Linked DNA regions of Homo sapiens: region 2 is linked to region 1. Evidence: fine-mapped expression QTL. A gene starts in region 1. The other region holds a variant in brackets. All regions are shown on one strand. Distances are from middle to middle.

Region 1 (15,065 bases):
GCTCTTTAAGGGTGGCGGTTATAGCTCACAAATGGACTAACTGTCTACCCCAGATGGGACCTGGGCCATGATAAACCTGCAGTACCTGTTTGCTGAATGACTGAATGAAAGATGAGGCTGTATTCACCAGCACAATAAACCTTTATAACAGTGTAAATGAAACACCTCCACACTTGGGCACTCATTGATCCCTTACTAGCTATTGTGTGGAAATCCTAATCCTTCTTCCAACTTGCAATCCTCTGAATACATTTTTTTTTTGAGACAGAGTCTCACTGTTGCCCAGGCTGGAGTGCAGTGGCACGATCTCGGCTCACTGCAACCTCCAACTACTGGGTTGAAGTTCACCTGCCTCACTCGGCCTCCCGAGTAGCTGGGACTACAGGCGTGTGCCACCATGCCCAGCTAATTTTTGTATTTTTAGTAGAGACAGGGTTTCACCACATTGGCCAGGATGGTCTCGATCTCTTGACCTCGTGATCCACCCGTCTTGGCCTCCCAAAGTGCTGGGATTACAGGCGTGAGCCACCGTGACCCTTTGAATACTTTTAAAAAGTACCACGTCCCTCCTTAATCTGTCCTCCAACATCCTCAGGACCTGTGACCACTCCACTCTGATAATGATCTCCAGAGCCTTCACCCTATTCTGACCGACCCCTCTGGATATAGGCCAGCCATGCTGTCCATCTGGAAATGCAGTGTGGGAACCCACACGCCACATTTACCTGTCCTTGCTAGATACTGTATTTCTATTACTGTACTCAGTGACTATGTGAAATTTTTATTAACCCTACCATGTGGAGCTGACTCCAATAGTTGTGGAAGATGCTCCCCCTGGGCTCACAGCATTTAGCTTTTCTAGACCCCCTTGCAGCCAGAAGTAGCCCTGGGACTTCTGGCCACAGAGATGGAAGCGGGTGTCTCTTGGGCGGCTCCTGGGGAAGGTTTTGCTTTCTTGGTAACAGAGACACAGACAGTTGGTACTTTCACCTGTGCTTCCTACCGTGAGAATGCAAGCACGAGGATGAAACCAATGTGGTCAAGAAGGTTAGGCAGAAATACAGAAGAAGCCACTACTGAACGAATTCATTCTAGATGGACACAGATGTTGTCACTCAAAGGGAAACCCAGCAGGTCTCTCAGTTCTCTCTCTTTTTTTTTTTTTTTTTGAGATGGAGTCTCACTCTGTTGCCCAGGCTGGAGTGCTGTGGCACGATCTTGGCTCACTGCAACTTCCGCCTCACCGGTTCAAGCGATTCTCCTGTCTCAGCCTCCAGGGTAGCTGGGATTACAGGCGCCCACCACCACATCCAGCTAATGTTTGTATTTTTAGTAAAGATGGGGTTTTACCATGTTGGCCAGGCTGGTCTTGAACTCCTGACCTCAGGCGATCTGCCTGTCTTGGCCTCCCAAAGTGCTGGGATTACAGGTGTGAGCCACTGCGCCTGGCCTCTTTCAGTTCTAAGGGGGAATCGGTGAGATGGAAAAGTTGGGAGGATGGGATGCAGACACAGACAAATCCTGCCCAGACTCCAGCACCTACCAGCTGTGTGAGCCTGGGTAACTCCTCGGCCTCTCTGTGCCTCAGTTCCTCCTCTACAGAATAAAGATGACCAAAGCACTCACCTTCCAGGGATGTGTGAGGAGGAGTGTATACATTTCAAGCACCAAAATAAATGCTATCCTCTACAAACATATCAACCACAACATGATTGAGAATTTCAAGCACCCCATAAGAGATTTTTAAATCACAAATATGCAGAAGCTATTTTTTTTTCAGCCAGAAACTTGTCTTGAAAACTATTTTCCAAAGGAATAACTCTTTCCAGACCCAGCGTGGAAAGTTCCATCCATCTCCTAATTTGCTGAGCCACCCTTCCTCAAAACCCTGGCTGCCTCTCCCCTGTATTTTTTTTAACCATAAACCACAAGAGAAACCCTAAAATACCTTACAGAGGGTATTGCTTCCGCAACCCACAATGTTAAAGTCGATGTAACTAACTATAGTACCTAACAAAAGGAAATGTCAGTGAGATAAAGAAAGGTTTTCTAAAACTCCCCAGGTAAGAAGTGAGGCTGTGAAGGCAGAGGCTTGAAGTGGCTGGCTGAGGTACAGATGGCATTTGTTTTCACTCCCCACTTGGGAGTGTAAAAGGTATTGCTGACAATCTGGATGGTCAGGGGTGGAGTGGGCTTTGTATTAGTCAGGGATCTCTAGAGAAAAGGAACTAGGCTGGCTGTGGTAGCTCATGCCCGTAATCCTAGCACTTTGAGAGGCCAAGGCGGGAGGATCACGAGGTCAGGAGTTCAAGACCAGCCTGGCCAACATGGTGAAACTCTGCCTCTACAAAAAATATAAAAATTAGCCAGGTGTGGTGGCACGCGCCTGTAGTCCCAGCTACTCAGGAGGCTGAGGCAGGAGAATTGCTTAAACCTGGGAGGTGGAGGTTACAGTGAGCCAAGACTGCCCCACTGCACTCCAGCCTGGGAAACAGAGTGAGACTCCGTCTCAAAAAAAAAAGAAAAAAAAAAAAAAAGAGAAAAGGAACTAGCAGAAAGAAAGAGAGAGAGAGAGAGACAGACACACACACACACACAGGAGAAAGAGCGAGCGCTTAAGGAATTGGCTTATGCAGGTGTGAAGGCTTAGCAAGTTGAAAATCTGTAGGGTGAGCTGGCAGGCTGGAGATCCAGGAAACAGATGCTGTCCAAGTGCAAGGACAAGGGGAGCCTGCTGGCCAAGTTCCCTCTTGTTCTGGGGAGGTCAGTCTTTTTCCTATTCAGGCCTTCAACTGATTGGACGAGGCCCACCCATGTTATTGAGGGCAATACGCTTTACGCGGGTCTGGTGATTTAAATGTTAATCTCATCTAAGGCATACGTTCACAGAAACATCTAAAATAATGTTTGACCAACTATCTTTCTCCCCTGGCCTAGCCAAGTTGACACATAAAGTTAACCACTACAGGGTTTATACTGCACCAACACAAACAAGTTCAAACAGTAGACCCCTCTGTCTGTCCCTAAATTCTCTGTCTGTCTCAGCCCCTGTGGTCTGGCTGGTTCTTCTCTCCCCCTCCCTTCTCCCCTGGCTCCGTCCTTCCCTTCTGGGAAGACTCCAGGCTCCGTCCTTCCCTTCTCTACCTTCCCCAGCAGGAGCGAGGCCCAGTTCCCCTCCTCAGGGCTTGCACAGTGGTTCTCCACCGCACTTTGCAGTGCTCTATCAACTTCTAAGTTTCCCGTGTCCCTTGAGGAGGAGACCTGGGGGACACAGCCGGGAAGGGGCGGAGCTGGCACCTGAACCCAGCTCTTCTGATGCGGAGACTAAGCTGTGACCCCATTTCAGGCTGCTTACGTCCCAGTGATCAAAATGAGCTACCTGGGATCATGCCAGGTGGGCTCATGGGCAAACTTAAAGACATTTTTAGAGGGACATTAAATTTTTCCTCTCCTGCATTATTTACTTTAATGCAGGATAGGAAAAAAACACGAACATCAAAGCCATGATTTCATGGATATAATTATATAGGATGAGGTCAAATTTTAACAGATAAGCTAATGAAAAGAAAACCCTACGAAAATAATAATGAAGGTGGCATGGGGGTAGACACAAATCACAAATGAGCTACATGAAAGACAGAAGTTTGGAGGGCACTGGCCTAGATCAAGATCTCCTTAGTAAGGCAGTAAAGAGTTAAACTGTCCTGAATCCCCCTGCTTCTCATGGGGTGATGGCCTCAAGCTAATTAGGAGACACTGAGGGTTTGGGTTTTTTTTTTTCTAAAACCAGAAGAGTGGAAGTCTGGGACTATACTCTTATTTCTTTGAGCTCACTAAGGGAATAAAACCTATTCACCAGTTCTATCCATAGGGGAAGGCAAAGGCCTTAATTTCCAAGTAAGAATCTGCTCCTCCCCACAGCCTGAAACCTGACCTGTCTGTGAATGTGGTGGCCACCCAGCCAGTGACCGCTCATTTGCCAGGGACACAAAGACCATCACAAAGGCTGCACTGGAGTCAGAATCTTGGGCTGGCACTTAGCTTGGCTACTAACTTAGACTGGGTCCCAGGAATGATAACACCAGTGAAAAATCACAACAGCTAATAATTACAGAGACTTCCTGTCTGGCAGGAAGTGCTTTATAGCACAACAACACGACAGCCCTATCTGATAGGTGCTATTATTATCCTCATTGTACAGACGAGGACATTGAAGAACAGAGAGGTTAAGTAACTTGCTCCTGGTAACAAAGCTGTTGAGGACTGAACCAGGACTCAGACCATTCAGTCTGACTCAAGCTCACCCTGGGCTCTACTAATATGTGTACAGCTGATACAAAGCCCTTTCTAGACAAAGCTCTGTCATCCTCAAGACAGAAACTTGGGGATCTAATGTGGGTCCTGTACTTACGGATCAGGAAACAGAAGCTTCAAGATATTAGGGCTCACATGGGCACACTGTGGGGATAAGCACCCTCAAGCATCCCCAGTGTGGGTGCTCTGGTACCCCACTTTGAGGAACAGTGTGCTCCATCATTCTGCCTCTGGCCAGCTGCTCCGATTCAGAAGTCAGCAAACTATGAACCCATATGCCAAATTCAGTCTGTTTTGTATGGTACTCGAGCTACAGATGGTCTTTATATTTTTAAATAGTTGGGAAAAAAAAAAGCTGAAGAAGAATAATATTTCATGATATGTGAAAATTACGTGAAATTCAAATTTCATTGCCCATAAATATTTTTATTTATGCACAGTCATTCTCATTCATTTACCTATGGCCTATGTAGCTGCTTTTGTGCTATAATGGCAGAACTGGGTAGTTGCAGCAGAGACCATCTGGTTCACGAAGCCACAAGTATTTACTATCTGGCCCTTTATAGAAAAAGCTCACTGACCCTGGTCTAGTCTGCTAACCAACACAGGAATCCTCTTTATAGTCGCCCTCCCCACCCCGGCTTCTGCCTTCACAGCTCCAGTGGTGGGGAGCTCACTACTGAACAAGGCAGCCAGTTCCATCTTTGCAAGGCTCTGGGGATAGCTATTTATACTGAAACCGAACTGCTTATTCCTGTAACCACACACCATGCCCTTGGAGCCCTGCACATTCAGTTCTATCAGTCCTCCCCAGCACCCATCAGTTTTTTTTTTTTTTTTGAGATTGAGTCTCACTCTGTCACCAGGCTAGAGTGCAGCGGCGTGATCTTGGCTCACTGCAACCTTCGCCTCCCAGGTTCAAGTAATTTTCCTGCCTCAGCCTCCCAAGTTGCTGGGACTACAGGCGTGTGCCACCACGTCCAGCTAATTTTTGTATTTTTAGTAGAGACAGGGTTTCACCATGTTGGCCAGGATGGTCTCAATTTCTTGACCTCGTGATCCACCCGCCTCGGCCTCCCAACGTGCTGGGATTACAGGCGTGAGCCACCGTGCCTGGCCCGCCATCAGTTTCTTTCTTCCCTCTGGCATCAACCCTTCCCTGTCCCTATATATGACCTCTGTCGTTCCTTACCAATCCTCTGGGAAGCAGAGGGAGAATGACAGCACCTCTGTGTTGCCAATAGGGGAGATGGGCAATGGAGAGGGACCGTGACATAGTTAGGAGCAGAACCAGAGCTGGAACCAGGTGTCCCGCCTCCCAGCCTGGTGTCTCCTCAACATCGCTTAAGTGTCCACTTTCCAGCCCATCATTCCCCAACTGGCCCCCAAGGGCCTGAAGTGGTCTCTCACTTCTGTGATTCCTTCCTGTGGCTCCCCCGGCTTGGCTTTTGTGGATTCAAAGACAGCTCTCTCTGACTTTTTCACTTTTCCCCTCCAGGGCTCAGTCTTCAGGCTCTGGGCTCTTCTCCCCTCACACCCAGCTCCCACCACCCCAACCACTGAGGCTCATCCCCAGGGACTGCCCATATTTACCATCTCTGTTGTTTGCAACTTACTGTTGGCAATCAGCTAGGATTTGGACTCCAAGTGCTTAGGGGTAAGCTGACAGCCAGAAATGGAAAATGGGTTTCTTGATATCTGTCTATAAAACAGAGCCAGTAGGCCGGGTGCAGTGGCTCACGCCTGTAATCCCAGCACTTTGGGAGGCCGAGGTGGGTGGTTCATGAGGTCAGGAGATCGAGACCATCCTGGCTAACACGGTGAAACCCCGTCTCTACTAAAAATACAAAAAATTAGCCAGGTGTGGTGGCGGGTGCCTGTAGTCCCAGCTACTTGGGAGGCTGAGGCAGGAGAATGGCGTGAACCCGGGAGGTGGAGCTTGCAGTGAGCCGAGATCGCGCCACTGCACTCCCGCCTGGGCGACAGAGTGAGACTCTGTCTCATAAAAAACAAAAAACAAAAAACAAAACAGATCCAGTAAGATTTGTCTGCAGAGAATATCTGGAAAGGGTTTGAAATCCTTGAAAGAAGAGGGCTGTGACAACACCAGCTGGTACAAAGGATCTGGAATCCTCTCAGCTACGGGTGCTGCCCTTGGGAAGCTCCCCTACTCATCGATGAGGGGAGGGGCCTGCAAGTGTGAGACCCATGTACATGTCCTTATCTGAGGGTAGAATAAGAGTTGTGGCTCTTGGAGGGTGGGACAGACATCAATTCAAAAGAAGCACTGGGCAGCTCGAGGCAGTGTGGTGAGGGTACAAAAGAAGACCTGGGTCTGGATTCTGACCTTGAGTGGCTGTGGAACCCTGGAAAGCGATGCTTTCTCTTAGACTGACTTTTGGTGAAATGGGAAAAAAATAGCAAAACCGCACAGGGTCACCATGAGATTAATACCCAGGACGCTAGCAGAATACCTGGCAGAGTTATTATGGTGTTTGCTCACAAAATGTTACTTTCCTTTTCTCCCTTCCTCCTTCCTGCTATGTGCCAGGCACCGTGCTAGGTGCTGAGGGTCTGGAGAAATAAGGCACAGTTCCTGCTCTCAAGAGGTTCAGCCTAGCTGTGGAGACAGACATGCACAACCACTAACAGAGTGGGACGGTGGCATATTAGTATAATGAGGGTAGAAATAATAAAAATAAGCCAAGCGTGGTGGCTCACACCTGCAATCCCAGCACTTTGGGAGGCTAAGGTGGCTGGATCACTTGAGGTCAGGAGTTCAAGACCAGCTTGGCTAACATGGTGAAACCCCATCTCTACTAAAAATACAAAAATTAGCCGGGCATGGTGGTGTGCACCTCTAATCCCAGCTACTCGGGAGGCTGAGGCAGGAGAATCACTTGAACCTGGGGGGCAGAGGTTGCAGTGAGCTGAGGCTGTGCCACTGCATTCCAGCCTTTTTTGAGACTCTGTCTCAAAAAAAAAAAAAAAAAAGAAATAATAAAAATGATGATGGTGATGATGACAGGAAGAGCTAATGTTTCCATACACTCACACTGTGCGAGACACTCTCAGAGGACTATCTTGTTTCATTCCAGCAACCACCCTGTGAGGCAGATGCTGTTAGTAACATTCTACCAAGGAGGAAGCGGAGATTCAGAGCCCAAAGTCATAGGGCAAGGGGGCCTGAGGATCTAGGATAAAGGGAGAGTAAAAGAGCAACGTCGGGCTTGGGGCAAGCCTCAGGGAGGAGGTGATGATGCCCTGTACTTTGAAGGGTGATCTGGAGCTCCTCAGTGGGGGCACAGGAGCAAGCAACCCAGGCAGAGGGACCAGCAAGCACAAAGGGGTGTGTGTGTGTGTGTGTTGGGAGGGGAGGTGGATGAGAACTTTGTGATTCCAGTGACTGACACTCATTCCTGATTAGCATCATTAGAATCACCATCTGAGGGATGTCAATTCCATATGGCTCTACAGCTCTACTATCAACAAGGGCATGGGAGTCGGCAGGCTTGAGAAGAGATGGTACTCCTGCAGCAAGGAGGGGCCTGGTTTACAGAATTATAAGCAGCTATACTGTGTCATCAGTAATCACAGCCAGGGAGCAGTACTTCCTCCGCCTCTTTATCTAAAAGAATATGGAATACTGAGGGGATTAACTCAAACTCTTAATTCTACTTTTGGAGCCTCTTCAGCTTTGGTTTAAATTTCAATGACTCAGTTTTGCTGTCAATTTACTGGGGTCTTGGATGAGTCACAGCCTCCACTTTCCCCTCTCTGGACCTTAGTCTCCGCCAGTGTAAAATGAAGGGGATGGGCTGGAACAGCATTAGCATTACCCGGGAACTCAACAGAAATTCACATTCTAGGCCGGACACGGTGGTCATGCCTGTAATCCCAGTACTTTGGGAGGCTGAGGTGGGTGGGTCACCTGTTCAGGTTTGAGACCAGCCTGGCCAACATGGAGAAACCCCATCTCTATTAAAAATACAAAATTAGTCGGGTGTGGCGGAGCGTGCCTGTAATCCCGGCTACCTTGGGAGGCTGAGGCAGGAGAATCGCTTGAACCCGGGAGGCGGAAGTTGCAGTGAGCCAAGATGGTGCCATTGCACCCCAGCCTGGGCAACAAGAGCGAAACGCAGTCTCAAAAAAAAAAAAAAAAAAAAAAGAAAAAGAAAAAGAAAAAGAAAAAAAAAGAAATTCACATTCTAGAGTCCCACCGCAGACCTGGAGAGTCAGAAACTCTGGGGTTGGGGCCCCGACATTATTTAACAAGCCCTCCTAGGAATTCTGATGAGAACCACTGGGTTAGAAGATCCCCAAGGTAAGGCTCTTTTACCTGCAAAATTCCATTTGTGCTTTAAGGTATTATGATTTAGTAGCATTCTCTTTGCACAGAAGTATTTCTTGCCCAAGAAAGGCAACGCTTCAAGGTAAGAAGAGAAGTTTGCTTTGATTAGCTGAAATCCAGAACCCAGGTGAGCTTTTCCAGAAAGCCTTAAGAGTATGTGGCTGACTTTGAAGCCAGGTCTTTTATTTACTTGTTTATTTTTAAGTAGTAAGTCTTAAACTTGGCATGTGATAAAAGCAGTGGTTTCTGTAGTCAGAGAAATATAGATGAGAGGAGAGCTGCCTTCTCTTTTCAGCTCCAAAAAACCATGACTCACTGTGGGGTGGGTGTGTGTCCGGGGAGGGCAGGGGTCCTTTGAGAGGGCAGTTCCTCTCCCTGGTTCAGGAGCTTCCTGGTGTGTAAATCCTGGACTGCCACCTCCCCCTTGGAGAGCATTGATTACAAAACCTCGGAAGAGCCACCGACAGCCACGGTGGCGATTACAACACAGAGCCGGGTCGACAAGCTTTCGTGAGGTTTCGCAAGACACTAAGAATGGAAAATATGTCTCATCTTAAAGTTTTCCCAGTCTGGACTTAAGACGAAAAGTCGTCATCAAAAAAGATGAAGAGTAATTTCACGGTAATGCGATGGTTTCTTCATGCAAGAATGCGGAACACCCAAACCATCCTCCGGAGAAGTGTGGCTGTTTGGGTGAAGGCATGTCGGTTCTCATGGTGTTGGTGCCCAAGAATGAGCACCTATGAGATCTACTGCCAAGCGATTTCCAGGGATTCCTAACCTTCACTTGGTGATCTCAGGAACAACGTGTGTGTGTAAATACATATAATATATATGTATGTGTATGTATATGTATGTTTGTATGTGTATATTTTTATATATATGTGTGCGTGTGTGTGTGTGTATGTGTATGTGTTTCAAGAGATGGGCTCTCCCTGCGTCGTCCAGGCTGGAGTACAGTGGCGCCATCAGGGCTCACTGCAGCCCTGACCTCCCAGATCCAATAAATCCTCCCAGCTCTGCCTACCGAGTGGCTGGGTGCACAGGCACGCACCACCACGCCCGGCTAATTTCTGTATTTTTTTTTTTTTTTTTTTTTGTAGAGACGGGGTCTCGCCATGTTGCCCAGGCTGGTCTCGAACTCCTGGGCTCAAGCGATCTGCCCGCCTTGGCCTCCCAAAGTGCTGGGATTACAGGCGGGAGCCACCGTGCCCAGCCCAGTGATAATAAATATTACAACTGTTTTTTTTTATATGGCACTGGCCATGTACCAGGCATTGTTCTAAGTATTTCACATTTATTAAGGAATTTAATCTTCACAACAAGCCCACGGAGGTGGGGACCATTATTGCCCGCCAACTACAGGTGAGGAAACCTCGGCCCAGGGAGGCTGCGTCACAGAACTGTGAGTATCCTGTCACCAGGGTGCAGAGAACCACGGACCAGCAGACAGGCGCCAGGTGCCCTGGGCTTGGCTTGGCCCGAGTTCCCGGCTGCCCCACCTACGGAGCACCGAGATGGGCTGACCAGGAGGGTTTGTCCGACCACTGTCTGCTCAGGTTCTGAGAGTCTGTGCGGGTCCATTTGAGGTTGGGTCGAGAAAAGAGCCCAGGCGGACACGTCCTGAGACCCGGGTCTGTGAGGCCTGGCCGCGGGCTGTCCGGCGCTGGGCCCCTCTGGCCAGTTGGCCCCAAGACGCCAAGCCCGGGGCTTCGCGGTCCTGGGAGAAGGGACTTCTAGCCCTTCTCAGGTGTCTGTGTCCGGAGGGCCCGGTGAGCCAGGAAGGAGCTGGCCAGAGCCCAGGCGGCGGGACCCAGCAGAGTGGCCCAGCCACTGCCAACCACGCAGTCCCTTTAACCACGAAAACTTTCTCCCTCGATTGGGGACCCCAGCAGACGCACATTGGCTGCGCCGTGGGCATCCGGACCCACCCTCTCTCCTTACCTACTGGCTGTCATATACATCTATCACAAGCCAAGGCTTCCTAATGGCCCAAGTTCTTGTCAATCAAGAGTGGGAGGAAAGCTGGGCGGAGCCAGGTCGGAGAGCTACACGCCAGCCTCCTTGCCCTCCCTGCCTCCGTGACTAGGCACCCGGAGGCTTCCCAGGGGACCGAAGCTGGGTGCGGAGCACCGGGGCGGAGCTGTGGGGGGCTCCAGGGACTCACCGATGCGCTGTCCCACTGGAGAGCTGAACGGGTTCCCCAGGAGAAAGTCCATTGCTGCTACCGCCGCTGCCACCAACCCCGGGAATCAGCTGACAGCAACCGCCAGCGCCACCGACCCGTCACGTGACGCACTCGGAGGCCGGCGAGGAGGCGTGGGCGGGGCGGTGGCACCGCGAAGCTCGACCACAAGCCCCGCCCTGAGACGCCAGGGTCCCGCCCCCGAGGCGGAGGGCGATGACCTCACTGCGGCTTGCTCGGCGGCGGCGGGCGTCACACACGATGTAGGGTCTGGGGTCGGGGCCCGGGAAGCGCGGTCCTCTTTAAGCCACGCCCCTGACCTTTTAGGGCGAGGTCTAAAGGACCCTTTACACATTTGGGAAACTGGGTCGTAGACCAGGGAAGTGACTTGGGTGAGTTACACAGAAGCCGAGACTCTTAGGGTCATAGCCCTTAGTCCTTGGGACCTCACTGTGACTGCACACCTACCCTGGGTGACAGCCTCTCTGGGCTGTTGTCTCCTTGTCCCGGTAAGACTCTTCCTGTTTGATGTCAAGGTCTCCCCGCTCCAAGATGCACCCTGCTCGCAGCCCAAATTATCTTACCTTAAATCAGAGGCAAGGGCAAGGGGTTTGTCATCTGTTGAGACTGAGAGGCAATTTAATGAATTGCAGCGCAATTCCCTCTAGCGCCCAGGATGGCAAAAAGCACAGATGTAGTCACGAGTGGGGCTTTAATACCCGTCTCTGCCATAAATTTACTGTGTGAGCCAAACATAGCTCCCATTTTCTCTAGATACTGGAATTAGATCAAGGACTCGTAACCATTTTTAAAAAATATTTTATTTAGGTCACAGTCTCCTTTGAGAATTTGACAAAAGCCATGAGCCTTTCTGAAGAAAAAAGGCAGCGATACAATTTTGCTTATAACCTCAGGGAGTTTCTGGGGTCCCTGAAGTACAACCGTGGACCCCAAGCTAAGAATCTCAAAGGCCTTTCCCAGCGTTGTGATTCTAATCTCTTCAGCCTTCCTGGCTGTGTGTGGTGTGTCTGCTGACACCTACACACTAGATACCTATCTATGGGTTATGACCTTTTCTTCTGGCATGTACTCCAAAAATACAATAACCATGGCCTTAGTAGTCTGGCTACTGTGGGTGCTTAAGTACTTATTGTGATGTTTGTGGTTTTTAAATCTGAAAGGCTAGTAAATTGACTGCACAAATTTTGGATGACAGAAAACCTAAATTAAGCAAGGTGTGGTGGCTCACGCCTGTAATCCCAACATTTTGGGAGGCTGAGGCAGGTGGATCACCTGAGGTCAGGCATTCAAAACAAGCCTAGCCAACATGGTAAAATGCCGTCTCTACTAAAAATACAAAAATTAGCCAGGTGTGGTGGTACACGCCTGTAGTCCCAGCTACTTGGGAGGCTGAGGCATGAGAATTGCTTGGACCCAGGGGGGCAGAGATTGCAGTGAGCTGAGATCGTGCCACTGCACTCCAGCCTGGGTGACAGAGTAAGGCTGTGTCTTAAAAAAAAAAACAAACCTAAATTAGAACTTAATCACCTCTGTAGATTCACTTGTTTGAGCAGCCATGGGGTCCGATGTCTTTACTGTACAATATAAAAACTGCTTTGAAGTGTTTCCACAACACTCATGAGACCTGTTCACAAATGCCTTTGCCCCCACGAGTCTGGATGTCCCTGGGGGCTGGGCTACTATTTCTGTTTTGCTCCCCACTATTGTCTAACCCAGTAACTAGCACATGAAAGCTTAAATAGATCTACGTTTCAGTAATGGTATTTGGAGTATAAGCGGGGAGAAGGCCATTTAAGATGACCTTCAGGTCAAGGCACTTTCCATGTCTTTCTTCACTTAACCTTATTGCTTGGTCATATGGAGTTATGTTTAGCATGAACTTCTTTTGGATTCTTCCATTAACCTTTATTTATTTATTTTTAGAGGCAAAGTCTCACTATGTTGCCCAGGCTGGTCCTTGAACTTCTGAGCTCAAGTGATCCTCCCACCTCAGCCTCCCAAAGCCCTGGGTTACAGGCATGAGCCACCATCTCTGGCCCTTCCTTTAAGCTTTTAACAAGTTCTTGTAAACTTTATTCATGGTAAAAAAAAAAAAAAAAAAAAACAAAAAAAAACAAAAACAGAGACAACTCATATGCCCCCAAACAGGAAGTGGAATCATAAACTCCATGCAGGCTGGGCACGGTGGCTCACACCTGTAATCACAGCACTTTGGGAGACCCAGGCAGGCAGATCACGAAGTCAGGAGATCAAGACCATCCTGGCTAACACGGTGAAACCCCATCTCTACTAAAAAAATAGAAAAAATTAGCTGGGCGTGGTGGTGGGCGCCGTGGTGGGCGCCTGTAGTCCCAGCTACTCGGGAGGCTGAGGCAGGAGAATGGCGTGAACCTGGTAGGCGGAGCTTGCAGTGAGCAGAGATTGCACCACTGCACTCCAGCCTGGGAGACAGAGCGAGACTCCGTCTCAAAAAAAAAAAGAAAAACAACTCCATGCAAACTGATTACTATATAGCTATTGAAACAGAAATGGAAGTATATGGATTTATTTATTTATTTATTTTTAAAGACAGAGTCTCTGTCACCCAGGCTGGCGTACAGTGGTACAACTGTAGCTCACCGTAGCCCTGATCTCCTGGGCTCAAGTGTCTTCCCACTTCAGCCTCTTGAGTAGGTGGGACTGCAGATGCATGCCACCATACCTGGCTAATATCTTTTAGTTTTTGTAGAGATGGGGTTTTGCTATATTCTCCAGGCTGGTCTCAAACACCTGGCCACAAATGATCCTCCTGACTTAGTCTCCCAAAGTGCTGGGATTACAGACACGAGCCACTGCACCTGGCCAGTATATGGATTTTATCAACATAGTAGATAGGGATGTAAATGGCAAACATTAAAGTTAGTACAAAACTGATTAAAACTGTCTTTAAAAAGTGTGCTAATAAGGAGCAAACTGATTTAGTAAAAAGTGTTTCAATTTACTTTTTAAGTGTTTTAGTAAAATTAATATCATGCCTTACTGAGGGTTAAAATGTTCAAATTTCTTAAGATTGACAGTCTGCATAAATGTAATCTATTAAATCCTTTAAGTGCTTACAGACAAAAATCAAGATACCTTGCCTTCAAAATTTAAAGACAATAGTATGACAAGAGTGAAAGCCAGCTAGATACCCGAACAATGCAAAGATCTGAGACAGCATTCCCACAATCACATTCGCTCAGGACTTGAGATAATGGAAAGCATTCTGATGAATTATAGACATGATTTAAATCTGAAAGTAGCTTGGGGTAGAAAAGAGCCTAGGGTTTGGGGTCAGCTGTTTCACTGTTCTTAATCTGCCTTTGCCATTTACTAGCAGTATAAACTTAGGAAAAGTACTTTTTCGCATCTATAAAGGGAGATAATATTCTTAAGGCTTTGGGCGGAGGATGAGTGAGACAAAGTATGCAAATCACTCTAATAGTCACTCAGTGATACGGTAGTCTCTTCCTTGCTGCCTTTCCATAAGACATTAGCCTTGTAATTAATCATATTATTTTACTATTTATGACTTTTAACACCTTGTGTTTGCACTGAAGTTTTTACCTTGAAAGGTCATATCTCCATATATTCAGTGTTCATAATGTTATTAAACATTCATGTCAGGCTGGCTGGCTGCAGGTCTACAGACAGGGAAGTGACTTTAACACTATTCTATAGATGGGACTTTGGAAGCCTATAAAGATTAAGTAACTTATCAACAGCATTACTGTAATGCTAACAGGACAGTACTGAAACATATCATTTAGCACATGATTCAGATGCAACCCTTATATAAGATTAATCAACATTTTCTTGATTTAGGCCAACACCATAATGCACATAGTTTCATTTGCCAATAAATGGAGGTGGAATTATCAGATTCACTAAATTTGCAATTTGCAAAAGAGAAAATGAGAACCTCTACAATGTAAAAGTTAATAGAAGCAGAGTAAGGAGTATATTAAGAAAATGGCTAAGATTAGAAATTTAATCTCCATTGTGGGTTGATTTTTTTCTTAAGAAAATTATGGTAGAATAGAGTGAAAAACAGGTTTTATAATTTCATAGCAACTATGATGATCATGATTAGGGAAAAGACAGCTGAGACTGGACTACAAATATTAAAAATGTGATTTTTAATAATATAAGTACAAAATTTTATTTCTTTATACA
Region 2 (15,065 bases), 25 kb before region 1:
CCTGCTCATGTTAGAATAAAATCAACTGCCTCTCTGTAGCCCAGTGGGCCCCACCACCCTCTCAGCATCCTGCCCCCTTCCCTGTGTGAAGAGCATCTTTCCCAGCTGCTGTGCGGGAGCCAGGGCACCTCTCTCCCGCCCTGCCTCTGAGACTTTGCACATGCTGTTCCTAGTGCCTGAAATGGCCTTCCTATCACCCAGCACCTGGTCCAGCTCTGAGTACCCTCCGCAGAGTTGCATGCTCCCTCCTCTGTGTCCACAGAGCCTGGTGCCCCCTCCAGGACAGCACTTAGCCCTTCACAGCGGTGGTCCTGGTGCATGTCACTCTCCCATGAGACTGCAGGCCCTAGAGGACAAGTTCCTTGTGTGCTTTTCCCTGTCCCCCGGAGCCTGCTCCCCAGAGGAAGGACAGCGCAACAGCATACCTCAGCCAGGCTGGTGACCAGGGCAGGCGCCAGGGTTCTCCAGTATGGCCAGCAGTGTTGCCTGCTGGGGCCTCTGTGGATGGGCGTGTCTGGCTGCAAGTCCCATCACACTCATTAGCTTGCCTTTGCAGGGTAGCCTCGGCAGCACCCCTAACTCCATGGCAACAGCTGCTGGTCCCAGGGTACCTGGGCTTAAAAGTACAGACTCTGCCCAGACTAAAGAAAGATACAGCTAACAGCCAGGGCAGCCCTAAGGACCTAGCAGGCTACAGCCTGGACCTGGATTTGTGGGTGTGGAGAGGTTATCCCTGGGCTCTCTGGAGGCCCATTGACAAAGTTCCAAAAGACACCAGAATGACCTCTAAGGAGCTGAGTGGGGTCAGTGGGAAGATCCCATAATCTAGAACTTTCCTTAGCTATAAGAATCCTGGCTGCCCACAGCTCAGCCCTGGGGGTCACAGTGGGCAAAAGGCTGAAGAAAACATCAAGCAGACTGTTCCTCTTACAAGCCTGTACGGGGCCAGTTCTCCCGCAGGTCCCGGCAAGGGGTCAGACCCTGGTGGACACACTCAGGCCACGTGCCTATGCTGCTGAAAGTACCCCCTGAAAATGCACGGTGCACAGGGAAGGGCAGAGCCCCAGCTCTGGGGCAAGGCTGACAGAACCTGCTTAATCTTCTCTGGAAATTAACGGTGGCTATGGAACAACAGAAAAAGACTTGACTTGAAAGTCCCTGAGGATTTATCAGGAAACTTCCCTGCTCCTGGAGGGCTTACTATGCGGTACACAGTGCAGGGAGGGGGGCGGGGGGTGGAGACACTGTGTTTTGGAACCAGACAGCCCTAGGCTCCTAACCTAGTGCTGCCAAATATTAGCTCCTTGACCTGGGGCAAATGAGCCTGCCCCTCTCTGTGCCTCAGTTTCCCCCTCTGATCAGACTATGTAAGATTCTGGCATACAGTGGGTCATTAGGCTCCCCCTCCCCCACCCAGCATGGCCTGTGGGGAGCGCAGTCTGTCAACTGACCACAGGGCTCCCAGGCCATGCTGGACTGACTTAGGGGATACTAAGGGCGTGCTTACTAAGCAGGGTCCGTGTGCCCTTCCTCATGGTGTGCCACCATAAAACCGGGTTCCAGAACCCCGAGAGCCACCCGAACTGCAGGGGACCAGGGCAGGGCCAGGCCACTCACTCTTTCCGTTGGTCAGCCAGTGAGCTGCCCCGTGTCAGCGCAAACATGTCAAACTCATCTTCCAGTCGACCAGAGGCCTCCAGAGACTGCAGGCCAGCTCTCACACTGCTGGAGCCCAGGTCTGCAGGGACAGAAAGGCCACGTGAAAGACCCATCCACAAGCTTGTGTGTGAGCTGCTGCTGAGCTACCTGCTGCCAGACCCAGGGCTTGGTGCTGGGGAAGTGGCACGTGTGGGTGGGGGAATGCGCGAGGCAGGCCACCTGCTGCTGGCTGTGGGGCCTTGGGCAAGCGGCTTCCTCTTCCCAGCTTTAGTTTACTCACCCCTCTTGGGGCTGCTGTGAGCGTTAGAGAACAGTCAAAACGCTATCCATTGATTCTGCTGGGGAAGTGGCTGGGCAGGAGGACAGTAATCAGATGGGTAGTCGATTTTTTCAAAAAGTATAGCATTAGTGATGCAAAATGGGGTGCTAATGATTTCCTAGGGCTTGGCATGAAGCAGACAGTAAATTATATTAAAACCTATCACAGTGATAACAGTGACAATGGCCAACTACTCAGCCAGAGTGCAACCTGGGCCTGGCATGGTCTAAGCGCTTCTCATACACGAGCTCCCTACTCCTGTTAAAGAGGAGGAAAGAGAGGCTCAGGAGGTTTAAGGAACTTGCCCAAGCTCACGCAGATGATTGAAGCCATGGAGAATTCAGTGTAGAGGGCCAATCCTAGGATGGTAGGATTTCTGAGATCCAAGGCGGCTCAGGACTTGTGGGGCTGCCAGGGGCAGTGACCCCGAGTGCCCCACCTTGCAGCAAGATTCAGCCTGGGACCCCAGCAAGGTGGGGTCCAGACTGACACTCTGCTGTGGGTATATAACAAGGGCACCCCGAAAATCTGCAGGGGTGCCCACAGTACCATAATGTACCCTCAGCTGGAGCCCTCCAAACCACACTTACTCATTCCTGCCAGCTGGGATGAGAGGTTGCCGGTGGCTGCTGGGTCAGGGCCCATGTCGATCAGGTCAGCTGCCGGCTCGGCCTCACTTGGGGCCTGGTGGGAAGGGAGATGCCCTGATCATCCCCGCTGTCTGCAGCTTCGTTCCTTTCTGCCCCAAGCACTGTGGCTTGCAGGCTTTGCCCAGGGATCTGTCACCAGGGCCCCAGGAGCTAGGACTGGGCATCAGGGAATTTCCTTCCTCCCCTCTGGCTCCAGCTCAACTGGACTCCCTGGGAGGTTGGGGAGACCCTGGGGCATCAGGTGGTGGCACAGCCTTATTTACCTTAAAGGGACAGGGACATAAAAAGTTAGAAGGGGATTTCTCTATGGGCCTGGATAAGACAGCACCACCCTGTCCAGTTTACTAGGGGAGGGAGGTGAGAATGGCACTCCTTCTTCCCATGAACAGGGCCTGATCTAGTCACAGAAAAGAAGACTTTTACCTTGGTGGTCTGGCCTGTTCGGAACCGTTCAAACCTACAAGACAGAAAAGACACGAGTTATGGAGACAGACTGAGACAGGCCCCCACACACGGCCAGGCAGAGCTTTTCAAACTGTGGGTCTCAACATCAACACGGTGGGTTATGATCAGGGTGATGACACGTCTGGTGTGCCCTGGACAGATCCAGTTCATGCCTGCTGTCCCTGGGTAACTAGCAGTGCTCCTCTTTCCCTTGCAAAAGTGTCCCAATTTGGATGATCAATTATAAGGCAACCTTAGTCATGAGTAGCATGAAACAAATAAACAGGAATAGGTTAGAACAGCAAAGAAAATAGGAATGCATGGCACGCAGTAAAGGTAAGGACTGTCTTATGAAACTTGTTTCAATTACATATTTGTGTGTGTGTATGTGTGTGTGTGTGTGTGTGTTAGTGCTCTCTTCAGTGCTGTAAGAAAGATACATGTATCTCTAATCTTGTTTTATGGAGCTACTTAGGGGCCGGTGTGATAGATCGAGAAGACTTTAGTGTGGGGTCTGTTCAAGTCGTGGCCTTGTCACTTATCACATGACCTCGGGTAAATTATGTTCCTTCTGAACTTTAGTCTGCTTGTCTAGTATCTGTAGGCACCTGCCTCCCTGAAGTGCTGAAGCCCAAATTAGGACATGGGTATAAGTGACTGCGAGCTTGAAAGCACAGTCAGATATTAAGCCTAATGACTGTGGATATCTGAGGGTACCAGCTGCTACCAGATGGGGCCCCTCAGTCACCTCACAGCCCATACCCCAAAATGGCAGGGAAGAGGCCTTTCATTCCACTGGGCCAACGAGCAGGAGAAGCTAGGCAGACGTGACCTGCAGGGTACCCCCCACTTTCCACTGATTTAGAATCAATCAGTGAGTGTCTTTTGATGGAGAAAGACACAAAAAATGAACAAGGGGCTGGAGGAGGCTGGAATAACTCATGTCAGTTATCAGACACCCTGGACTGCTAAGCGCTTTACAGACACTGTTTCATGGACTCTCACTTATGCCACAAGCCTCATTTTACAGATACAGAGGAGGTGTGATGGGCACACAATTTCTGCAGACCCAGCAATCCTTCTCCTTCTCTTTCCTTTTTTTTTTTGAGATGGAGTCTTGCTCTGTCGCCTAGGCTGGAGTGCAGTGGTGCGATCTCGGCTCATTGCAACCTCTGCCTCCTGGGTTCAAGCAATTCTCCTGCCTCAGCCTCCCAAGTAAGCTGGGATTACAGGCACCCACCACCACCTCCGGCTAATTTTTTTGTATTTTTTAGTAGAGACGGGGTTTCACCATGTTGGCCTGGCTGGTTGCAAACTCCTGGCCTCAAGTGATCCTCCCGGCTCAGCCTCCCAAAGTGCTAGGATTACAGGTGTGAGCCACTGCGCCCAGCCCTTCTCCTTCTTTTGTAATAGCACCTAAGTACTCTTTAGAGGAACTGCTCCTCCCCCATTTCACATCATCCCGGTGGGGCTGCCATCAAAGGGCCCTCTCCCATACCCCAGCTGGTAGGCACAATGAAGCTCAGCCAATCCAAGTCTCTCTTGGGGATGTGACTCTTGAACAGAATGATACAAGGTGGGCAGGTGGGTGTGGTGGCTCATGCCTGTAATACCAATGCTTTCGGAGGCCAAGGAGGGAGGACTGCTTGAGGCCAAGAGTTTGAGACTAGCCTGGGCAACACAGTGAGACCCCTGTCTCTGCAAAAAGAAAAAAAAAAAAAGAAAAGAAAATTAGCTGGGTGTGGTGGTGCATGCCTGTAGTCCCGGCTACCTGGCAGGCTGAGGTGGGAGGACTGCTTGAGCCCAGGAGGTTGAGGCTGCAGTGAGCTGTGATCATGCCACTATACTCCAGCCTGGGTGACAGAGCAAGATCGTGCCTCAAAAAAAAAAAAAAAAAAAAGGTGGACAGGTGTTTGTGGACAAGTGTTTGAGCTGATGTATTTATTGATGGCAGCACCCTGGGGAGATGGTCCAGGAATTTCTGCTCCTGAGACATCTGAGCTGCCCTGGGATCCATCTTTCTTGTTCTGTTGGGAGACATCAGTTTCACTTTTCTCTGGATTCTGAAAGCTACCCATTTAATAAAGATTATTATCCTAACAAATTCTTTTTCTGCCTAAGTTAGCCAGAAATGTTTTGTGTAGCTTGCAGCAGTGAAGTCACTTGTCTAAGGCCCCAGAACCAGGAAGTGGTGGAGTGGGCGAGGACACACCAGGCCAGTCTGGTTGCAGGGCCGTGCTCTCAGCTGTGACCTGTGACCATCTCCCAGGGCTGGACTTGGGCACAGGCAGCAGCGCTAACCCTGGAAAGGAGATACAGGGCGGCTGGAAGGAGGGGCCCTCATAAACATCCTGGAAGAAGACAGCTGAGGGCACAGGCCCTTAGGAGCCTGCCTTGTGTTTGAGAGGAGGACGAGAGAAGGCTCAGATGGCATGAGACCAGGAGAACAGGGAGGAAGGGAAGGGAGAGGGTTGGGGCAGTAGGCCAGAGGCCAGGGGAGGTGCTGGGGCTACCGTTCATGGCGCAGGAACACATTGTTGAGATTGTCATTGACGATGAGCAGCTCCTCTGTCAGCTGCTCATTGGCGATCTGAGGGATGAGCTCCAGGACCCGCTGCTGCATGGCTCGGCACGTGCGGTTGAGCTCCTGCCAGGAAAGGAAGTGAGGCAACCACAGTCACATGACTCAGAGTGAGGCCGTCTCTTTTTTTTTTTGTGAGACGGAGCTCTGTCGCCCAGGCTGGAGTGCAGTGGTGCGATCTTGGCTCACTGCAAGCTGTGTCCTGGGTTCATGCCATTCTCCTGCCTCAGCCTCCCAAGTAGCTGGGACTACAGGCGTCTGCCACCACGCCTGGCTAATTTTTTTTTTTGTAGTTTTAGTAGAGACGGGGTTTCGCCATATTAGCCAGGGTGGTCTCGATCTCCTGACCTCACGATCTGCCTGCCTCGGCCTCCCAAAGTGCTGGGATTACAGGCGTGAGCCACCGCGCCTGGCCAAGTGAGGCCATCTCTAATGCACGGGCCTCCAGCCCCTGCACAAGCCTTGGAGGAGGGTGAGGTGCCCAAACTGGACTTCAAGGTTCCACGGAACAGCTTTTTGGGTTCTACAAACATGAACTTGAACTTCACTTCCAAGTGTTAGATGCTAAAATTTAATCCACAGGAAACCATCAACATGTCCAACTGTGCTGCCGGTTTAACTTGGCTTCGTGCAGATTCCAGAATAAAGGTTGTGCCACCATCTTTGCTTAGTCAAAAAAAAACTGAGTCTGCAAAGGGGGCTGGCTGAACAAACCACAACTTCTGGGGGTATGCTGTGATTTTTGCAACCAAAGCATACAGAATGAACTAGATGACTGCAACCATTAGCCACAAACCTCGATTTCGAGTTTTTGCCTCACTTTTCTCACTGCCTGATTTTTTGTCTTTTTAAACAAACTTTTAGCTTTGGAATAATTTTAGATTTACAGAAGAGATGCAAAGATAGTACCACAAGTTCCCATATACCCTTGACCCTGGCTTCCCCTTAGTCTGGCATTTGTCAAAACTGGTAAACTACCATTAAACATTAAAACTGGTAAAATACTATTAACTAAACTGCGGACTTTATTCAGGTTTCACTAGTTTTTCCTCTAATGTCCTTTGTTTGTTCTAGGATCCTACACTGCATTTAGTTATCACGTCACCGACTTTTAACCACTAGGTGTCATATTTAAACTTATGAAAAATAAAAAAAATGGCTACACCCGGTGGCTCGTGCCTATAATCCCAGCACTTGGGGAGGCCGAGGCGGGTGGATCACCTGAGGTCAGGAGTTCAAGACCAGCCTGGCCAACAAGGTGAAACCCTGTGTCTACTAATAATACAAAAATTAGCCGGGCATGGTGGTGTATGCCTATAATCCCAGCTGCTTGGAAGGCTGAGGCAGGAGAATAGCTTGAACCCAAGAGGCAGAGGCTGCGGTGAGCCGAGATCGCGCCACTGCACTCCAGCCTGGGTGACAGAGCAAGACTCCGTCTCAAAAAAAATAAAAAAATAAAAAACCATAGCCATATGGGTTTTCATTTTTAAGATTGGTCAATTATTTCTTCAGGTACCTGCCACCAGGTGAAGGTTCCTGGGTCACGGCAGGTGCCTGGGTCCTGAGGTCCAGGGAGCTGCCCGGCATTGC[C/T]GACTGTGGCCTCACGCCAGCACGCCTTTCTCCTGGAGGCAACGCTGAGGCTCGGCACTGCCCAGTGTTTATTTTGGCTGTCATGTGGACCCTGTCCCCTGCCCCCTCCAAGGTCAGGCCTCCGGGATTTCCTCATCGCCCTTAGCACGGGGACAGGGCGGGTGCCTTTCAACATCCTGTGGGCTCCCCTCCTGCTCTTATGACCAAGCACACGGTGGCTTTGCTTCTGCTTCCCTGCTGGCCCCTCTCAAGAGCAGAAGAGCAGCACTTGGAGCCAGGCCCCCGGGTTCAAATCGCAGCTCTGCTACTTACCAGCCATATAACCCTGGACGTGTTATCTGATCTCCCTATGCCTATTTCCTGACCTGGAAAATGGGGGTGGTCAGGATTACGTGAGCGATGTGAACCAAGTGTCCACATATAGCCCGGGACACGGGAAGTGCCCAGTGCATGGGAGCTGTCCCTGCATCCACCTTGCTCAGCCTTCTGAGTCCCCAGACTGCTCACATCTCATGGCCTTGGCTTGGGGCGTGCGAGGCTGCCTGCGCAGTCTTCTCTCTTTCGGAGCCCTTACTGGGTTTCAAGTTTGTGTATTCACTGGACTCTGAGGCTACTCCTTTTCTCCCCACCCTGCACCACCAAGTGAGGACCCCTGCAGAGTCAGCTCGGTCAGGCACACAGACACGGTGGCGAGGAAGACACAGCGCTGCCCTCAAGGAGCCTGAGGCCTGGTGGACGAGCAGTAGGAACTCGAACAGTTACACGAAGCGCTCTGTCTCCTCATGGATTCTGGTGACTCCTGGGCCTTGGGGATTCCTAGCTCTCTTGGTGCCTCTATGACTGGCCTCCATGGGGAGGGTGCTTTTTGCCAAATTCAGTGTCCCTTCTGCTCCAGTGACCCCCAATCTGGGCTGGGGCCGTGGGAATACCATGTGACACCCGGGAGCAGGAACCACTAGCTCCACCTGCCTTGGCTCCCCAAGATCAGTGGCTGGCGCATCTCAAGGCTGGCACCACCCTCTCACACCTGCCTGCTGAGTCTCGGATTCTGAATGGTGTAAATCTCACCTTCCAGCTTTTTCTCAGGACCCCTTACTGGGTGCTTTACTCTGTACCAGGCACAAGCCTGCGTGTTTTTCATGCAATACCTTATTTAACTCACATCAAACTTGTGCCATGAAGGCTATTGTTAGAGCAATCTTACAGATGAGGAAACTGAGGCCAGGGGGGCTACTTTGTTCAAACCAGAAAGTGGTAGAGCTGCGATCTGATTCCAATCTGATGGCGTCCAAAGTCCCTGGTGGTAACATGTCCCCAACTGTGACCAAGGAGTATGGAGTAAGCCATGAAGACTGTCATGAGGATTGGGAAAGAATGCATGTGGGCAGCTGGGCAGGAGTCATCTGAGCCCCAGGGGGTGGTGCCACCTGCTCACCTGCAGCAGCTCCAGGTCTGCGGGCTCGGCCTGGGTGGGCACCAGCTCCGTCAGCATCTCCGACATCACCCTCACGTTCCCACTCACCATCTCCAGCTCACTGCGCAGCTTCCCAATCTGAAACACACAGTTGATCGTGGTGAGAGAAGCCAGGGTTCTGGGGCCCATGTTACTCACAGCGACAGAACCCAGTACCACCAACCCTGGGTGCAGCACCAGGGAGCCGACCTCCCAGCAGCCTCTCTAGGCAGCCTCCCTCCTGGCTCCCAAAGTGACAGCTCTGCACTAGAGGCCTGCCCCACCCCTTCTACAGACCCCTCACAGAGGCGCTACCAACCGTTACCATCTCCACACCGGAATGAGCCACCACGTGTGGCTGGAAGACTCCAGCATCTCCTGGGTCTAACACAGCAGCTAACAAGGCCCTGGAGGGTGGCTCCCCACAAGGCGGGGAGGGACGCTGCAGGCCCTCTCTCTCTCTCCCACTAGAGGACTGGGATTCTGCCCTCTCTCTCTCCTCCTAGAGGACTGGGATTCCGCCCTCTCTCCTAGAAGACTGGGATCCCCCCCTCTCTCTCCTCCTAGAGGACTGGGATCCCACCCTCTCTCCTCCTAGAGGACTGGGATCCCGCCGTCTCTCTCCTCCTAGAGGACTGGGATCCCGCCCTCTCTCCTCCTAGAGGACTGGGATTCCGTCCTCTCTCTCTCCTCCTAGAGGACTGGGATTCCACCCTCTCTCTCCTCCTAGTGGACTGGGCTTCTGCCCTCTTTCTCCTCCTAGTGGACTGGGATTTTGTCCTGTTTCTGGTCTATTTTGGTGTCCCAGGCTCATCTAAGGATAGTCCTTGCCCTGTACCCCACCTTGAATATGAAACTCAGATTTAGCACTTGTTCCAAGGGATGTGGGCAGGTTTTCAATGGTCAAAGGGTTCCAAGGAGTTGGGCTTGGGGAAACATTTTCAATAAAGCTGCAGTCTCCTCAAAGAGGTTAGCTTGTGAAAGGCCATTGGTATAAGGATCTTATGCTGTGGGACCTTGTAGGGTGTTTAATGCCCTCATGCACACTGGGAATGCCTGGGAAAAGATCAGTCTGAAAGCTTCTAAGATTTATTTGACTGAAGAACCTTTTTATGTTTTGAGAAATGCTGGTACATTCTAAATCATGTGGCTGAGTTATAGTTGATTTCAGAGTGTCACTATATACATTCATGATTGTGACAGCAGCTACCATTTATAGACTACCTAATAAGTGCCAAGCATTGAACATATATTGCTAACTTAATTTTTTACCATGGTAGACATCAATATCCCTGCTTTTATAGATGAAGAAATGGAGTGTAGAGACTAGTAGTATATCCACTATGGTTCACTGACACCTTCCAAAACCTGCAAAATGTTTGATCTATTTGGCTTACTTAATGAACACTCTTGGTATGAGTGAGTGGAAAAACTACTGATCACAAACCCCATGTATCCAAATCAGATGGGACTTAATTACAGAGGAGTCTGGGAGTAACATCACTGCACACCTGATGTCTTAACATGTCCCAAGAGACAAAAGGGGACTCTCGAATTAAACAAAGATTAGTTTTGTTTAGCAAGCACCTTCTTGCATTGGAAGTAATTAGCGTCTTAATCCACACAGATGCTAGACTTCAGAAAATTGGTTAAAATCATAACTGAGTTAGACAATCACAAGGTGGTTTTACAATTTTTTACACACCTTTAACCCACTCAGAAAAAAAAAGTGCAGCTCGCTGTCAGCACTCATTTAATTTTACATAAACATGCTCTTTGAGGCTGAAGTAAACCTGACTGATTTTCAACATGAAAATAAAACATAAAAACTGTTCTTGGAGTTATTTCTAAACAGAACTTGTCTCCAATCCTAACGTAACAGAAATGTATATGAGGTTACATTAGGATTAGAGACAAGAGTATTCTTGGGGCAAACGGGCAGTGCGTTAATAATTTTGTCCAGTTAGCAAAATTTTCTAGTAATATCTGTAACTCTGAGGGGTGATTTCATAACTTGCTATGAGAAAACAAATCATGGAAGTTTCTCTTCAAATAGGTTAGGGTGAGAATGAGTTCAAATGATACAAAAAGTGGGCAGTGGGGACGCTTATTGGGAAAGTTAAGCTTCACTTTTCTTTCCATCACACATCCGTGTCTAACTCACCAGCACACTCAGCAGCTCCACCTTTACGCTCCGCGGATGTGATGGGCCTGATGTGTGTACAACACCTTTAACGTGGGTGTCTCCACAGTGTGCAGGCCTCTGCCCCCACCCCAGCAGCCAAAAGTCTAGAATGACAAGCCCCCAGCTCTACGAGCTGGTCATGGCTGTAGAAGTCACTCAGCAGATACAGCAGCCATGGCACTCCACAAGCAGCTCATGGCCCAGTGGGCCATGAGGAGGAAGGAAGTGACATGCCCAGGGTGCCACCTGCTCTGAGGTGGGTAATCCTTCAAAGCTAGTCAGAGGGCTGGGAAAACCTGTCCCCTAGAATCTCATACTAAGCCTCAAACCTTCTTGGCTGGGTGTGGTGGCTCATGCCTGTAATCCCAGCACTTTAGGAGGCCAAGACGAGTAGATCACTTGAGCTCAGGAGTTCGAGACTAGCCTGGCCAACATGATGAAACTCCATCTCTACTAAAAATACAAAAAATTAGCTGGGCATGGTGGCTCATGCCTGTAGTCCCAGCTACTCAGGAGGCTGAGGCAGGAGAATTGCTTGAACCTGGGAGAGAGAGGTTGCAGTGAGCCTAGATGGTGCCACTGCACTCCAGCCTGGGTGACAGAGCAAGACTGTTTCAGAACAAACAAAAAAGCTTCAGACCTTCTTGAGACTTCATGGGAAGCAGCATGGTACAATGTACATATGTTTTTTATTTTTTGCACAGATGTTTGAAAACTTTTCAGGCAGAACCTCTCTTCAAATGAAGCCTTTTTTTTTTTTTTTTTTTTTTTTGAAACAGGTCTCTCTATGTTGCCCAGCCTGGTCTCAAACTCCTGGGCTCAAGCCATCCTCCTGCCTGAACCTTTGAGAAGCTAAGATCACAGACGCACGTGACCATGCCCAGCTCAAATGAAAGCTGTGAGTGTGTAAGAAACCACACAGGTGGAGCTGGCCTGAAGGGGCTGCGTACAGGACACCTCTCCATGGTGCTGTTGGAGGGCCCCGCAGAAAACACAGGTTGGAAAATGGCCAAGGTACAGGGCAGTGCCTGCCAGGAGTCAGACAGACGTGAGCTTGGATCCCAACTGTCTCTGATGACTGTGTGCTCTGGGCAAGTGAATGGACCTCTCTGAGTCTCATCGCTCAAACAGGAAGAACCACACATACCCTGTGGGCTGCTGTGAGGAAGAAGTGGAGGCTCCGTGGATGGTAAATTCTGACAGGGGGCCCTCCCTGACGTGTGTGGCCCACCTGCCTGGACCTGACGGTTCTGACCCCAGGCTCGTTTACCTGTTCCGGGGTTGGTGCTATGGGCGTGTCACCGGAGAGTATGGGCGGGGCGGGCAGAGGGGCAGCATGCTGGCCAGAGTCCTCTTGCTGGCTGGAGTCAGTGCCCACAGAATCCTGTCCTGATTGTGTCTCTGAGTTGAACACGGTCTAGTGGGAGGAAAACAGGATCAGTGAGGGCTCCTGGGAACATCAAGAGCCCAGGAAGTCAGGGGCCAGCCTGGTGATGTCTCTGGGGATGAGTCCTGCCTCCCTTCCCTTGGTTCCCGGTACGGCAGTTCTCTCACCCTCTGGGGTGTGTGGATGGGTGACAGCATGTCCAGGTCAGTCATGGGGAACTCCAGGCCTTTCCTCCGCAGGTCCTCATAGATGGTGACCACACCTGTCAGATCGGGCGAGCTGCGGAACGCGTCAGCCCAGGACTGAGAGGGGACAAGGGGACACAGCCGGTAACCACAGCTCACCTGTGAGCCTGCCCACCTGGCACTCAGACAGAGAACAGACATTCTTTCCCTGCTTTTTTTTTTTTTTTAACTACATCTGCCCTGCCCACTCCACAGCAAAGCACGCAGTTGGCAAGCCTCCCTCCCCACAGAACATCCCACCAGCCGACAACCGAGACGCCCCGAAATGAGAAGCGGAGCCTGGGACAAACACGATGGCCTCGACTCTCCACTGGGCAGGAAGCTCCTGCACTGACAGCTCTTCCTGGCCGTGCCCTGCCCTGTCCTGGCACTCACCTGGATGAGGTTGAGCACTTTGTCATGCACGATGGTGGGTGGGTTGTTCTTGGGCAGGATGGTCCTCACCAGCACACTCTCCACGAAGTCCTGGCTGGCCACCAGCACGTGGAAGCGGTGCCCGCAGTTCTTGACACAGGTTTCTAAGACCTGGAGGGCCGAGAGGTGCCGTCGAGCACCTTGGTCAGAGGAGAGGAGGTGCTCAGAACCCCCACCCTCGTGGCTCCTCCTGTGTCCCAGAGAGGAGGCCCGGGAGAGGAGATGGGACTTCCTGGAGTGAGACCCTTGAATGTGGAGGACTGGGACAATGCCAGGACTGGGGGACTTGTTTACTGGAGGGCACGGCCTAGGGTGGGCAGAGGTATGGTGTGTGGGCTGGACTTCCTTCCCTGACTGGCGTCAGTGCACGCAGAATCCCAATGCTGTCTCTGAGCTAAACATGGTCTAGAGAGAAGGGGCTCTCCAAGAGGAAATCAAGGAGCATCTGAGATGTCAATCGACTGGTGAGCCTGTGGCCCAGGGAAAAGGCACTGAACTTCCCTCCCCACTCTCCACTTCCCACTGCAGGAATTGCCTTTGCTTTTTGCTTAAGCCAATTCACCTGGATATAAATGCTGCTTGTGGAGGAGGGTGGGACAGCATTTATATCTTCCCCAGCCAAACCCATGCTGACGGCTAGGAGGCCCACGTGTGTCTGGCCGCCCTGAGATCTGGGCTGGTTCAGTGGTGTGGGCAAGACTGTTCTCAGCCACTGGTATTTATTTTACATTCATTTGCCAGAGCACCAAAGTGCCGAGCAGCACCCAACTCAGTCAGCCGGCCTCCCTGCCCCCGCGGAGGCCTGGGTTTACTGAGCTTCAATGTCACCCACAGGTCCTTTGGCCCAGGCTCTCCCTGCCAGTGGTTCTGGAGTGATGTAAGCGTCTGTTCCCATGCTGGGGGATTGGGGAGAACCTTTCCAAATGGCCTCTTGCCATTCTGCATCCGCCTGCAGTGTAGACAGGACAGTGCGTTGCCTACAGACCTTTCCAGCTCTCAAATGAGGAGCTCAGAGGAGGCTGGGAGTCCTGCTGGGTCTGAGGGGAGGTGACTTTCAGTGGACCGTAGTCCTGCCACAGGACAGACAGATGGGGCACTCACTGTGAGAGCCAGCATCACCTCGTGGAAGTTCTTATTCCCCACGATTCTCTTCTTTACTGCTCGGAGGGCATCTTTGGGACTAAGGAGGACAAGAAAAAGGGTGGGCTTAGGAATAGAGCCCCCTTACCTAACACCAGAGACCCTGGAGAGTTGGAACAGTTCTTATTGGCCCATCCTCCCTGTGCCCCACCTGTTTTGTGTATCCAGCCAGGTTCTGATCACATCAGAATCTTCCTAGCCCATTGCTTAGCAGGGACTCACAACCTGTGGCCCCTGGACCTCCAGCAGCAGAGTCACTTTGAGAAAAGATGAGAGCGTTTTGTTAAAAGTGCAGAACCTGGCCGGGCGCGGTGGCTCATGCCTGTAATCCCAGGACTTTGGGAGGCTGAGGCAGGTGGATCACTTGAGGCCAGGAGTTCAAGACCAGCCTGGCCAACATGGTGAAACCCTGTCTCTACTAAAAATACAAAAATTTGCCGGGCGTGGTGGTATGACCCTGTAATCCCAGCTACTTGGGAGGTTGAGGCGGGAGAATCGCTTGAACCCAGGAGGCAGAGGTTGCAGTGAGCCGAGATTACGCCACTGTACTCCAGCCTGGGCAACAGAGTGAGAGCCGAGATTGCGCCACTGTACTCCAGCCTGGGCGACAGAGTGAGACCCTGTCTCAAAAAAACAAAGGACATTCAAAAAAAAAAAGCAGAACCCTAGGTCCCCACCCTAGACCACCTGAACCAAATTCTCAGGGAGTGGGGCCCCTGAATCTGAATGCTTCTCATGCTCCCCAAGGGTTTCTTATGCATGCTCAAGTTTAAGAACAAATAACCTGGAGGCATAATGTTTTCATTACAAAAATAGAGATGGGGTCTTGCTATGTTGCCCAGGCTGGTCTCAAACTCCTGGGCTCAAATGATTCTCCCACCTCGGCCTCCCAATATGTTGTGATTACAGGCATGAGTCCCTGAGCCCAGCTAGCATAGTGTTCTGATGCCCCGTCCTGGCCAGCTGCTCTATCTGTCCATTTACCCTTCCATTCAAGT

The links. PIP is the estimated chance that this variant, and not a neighbour inherited with it, causes the effect.
Region 2: its variant is fine-mapped to the expression of TOM1 in whole blood (TOPMed, PIP 0.98).

The regions. Positions count from the first base shown.
Region 1 is chr22:35,295,748-35,310,812 of GRCh38, reverse strand. TOM1 (target of myb1 membrane trafficking protein) reads right to left here and starts at 10,919. Exons shown (of 15, transcript NM_005488.3): 1 at 10,833-10,919. The coding sequence starts at 10,884. HMGXB4 (HMG-box containing 4) reads right to left here. Exons shown (of 11, transcript NM_001003681.3): 11 at 15,006-15,065. RefSeq lists a silencer at 1,508-1,577 and enhancers at 9,254-9,775, 10,186-10,345, 10,299-10,821, 10,746-10,895, 10,822-11,344.
Region 2 is chr22:35,321,001-35,336,065 of GRCh38, reverse strand. TOM1 (target of myb1 membrane trafficking protein) reads right to left here. Exons shown (of 15, transcript NM_005488.3): 3 at 14,029-14,107; 4 at 12,889-13,038; 5 at 12,436-12,570; 6 at 12,152-12,298; 7 at 8,679-8,795; 8 at 5,586-5,719; 9 at 3,052-3,085; 10 at 2,569-2,662; 11 at 1,618-1,738. It overlaps MIR3909 (microRNA 3909), which reads right to left and starts at 426; the gene lies at 308-426. RefSeq lists enhancers at 5,206-5,706, 7,196-7,490, 11,937-13,136. The variant C/T (reference allele first, on the strand shown) is at 7,244.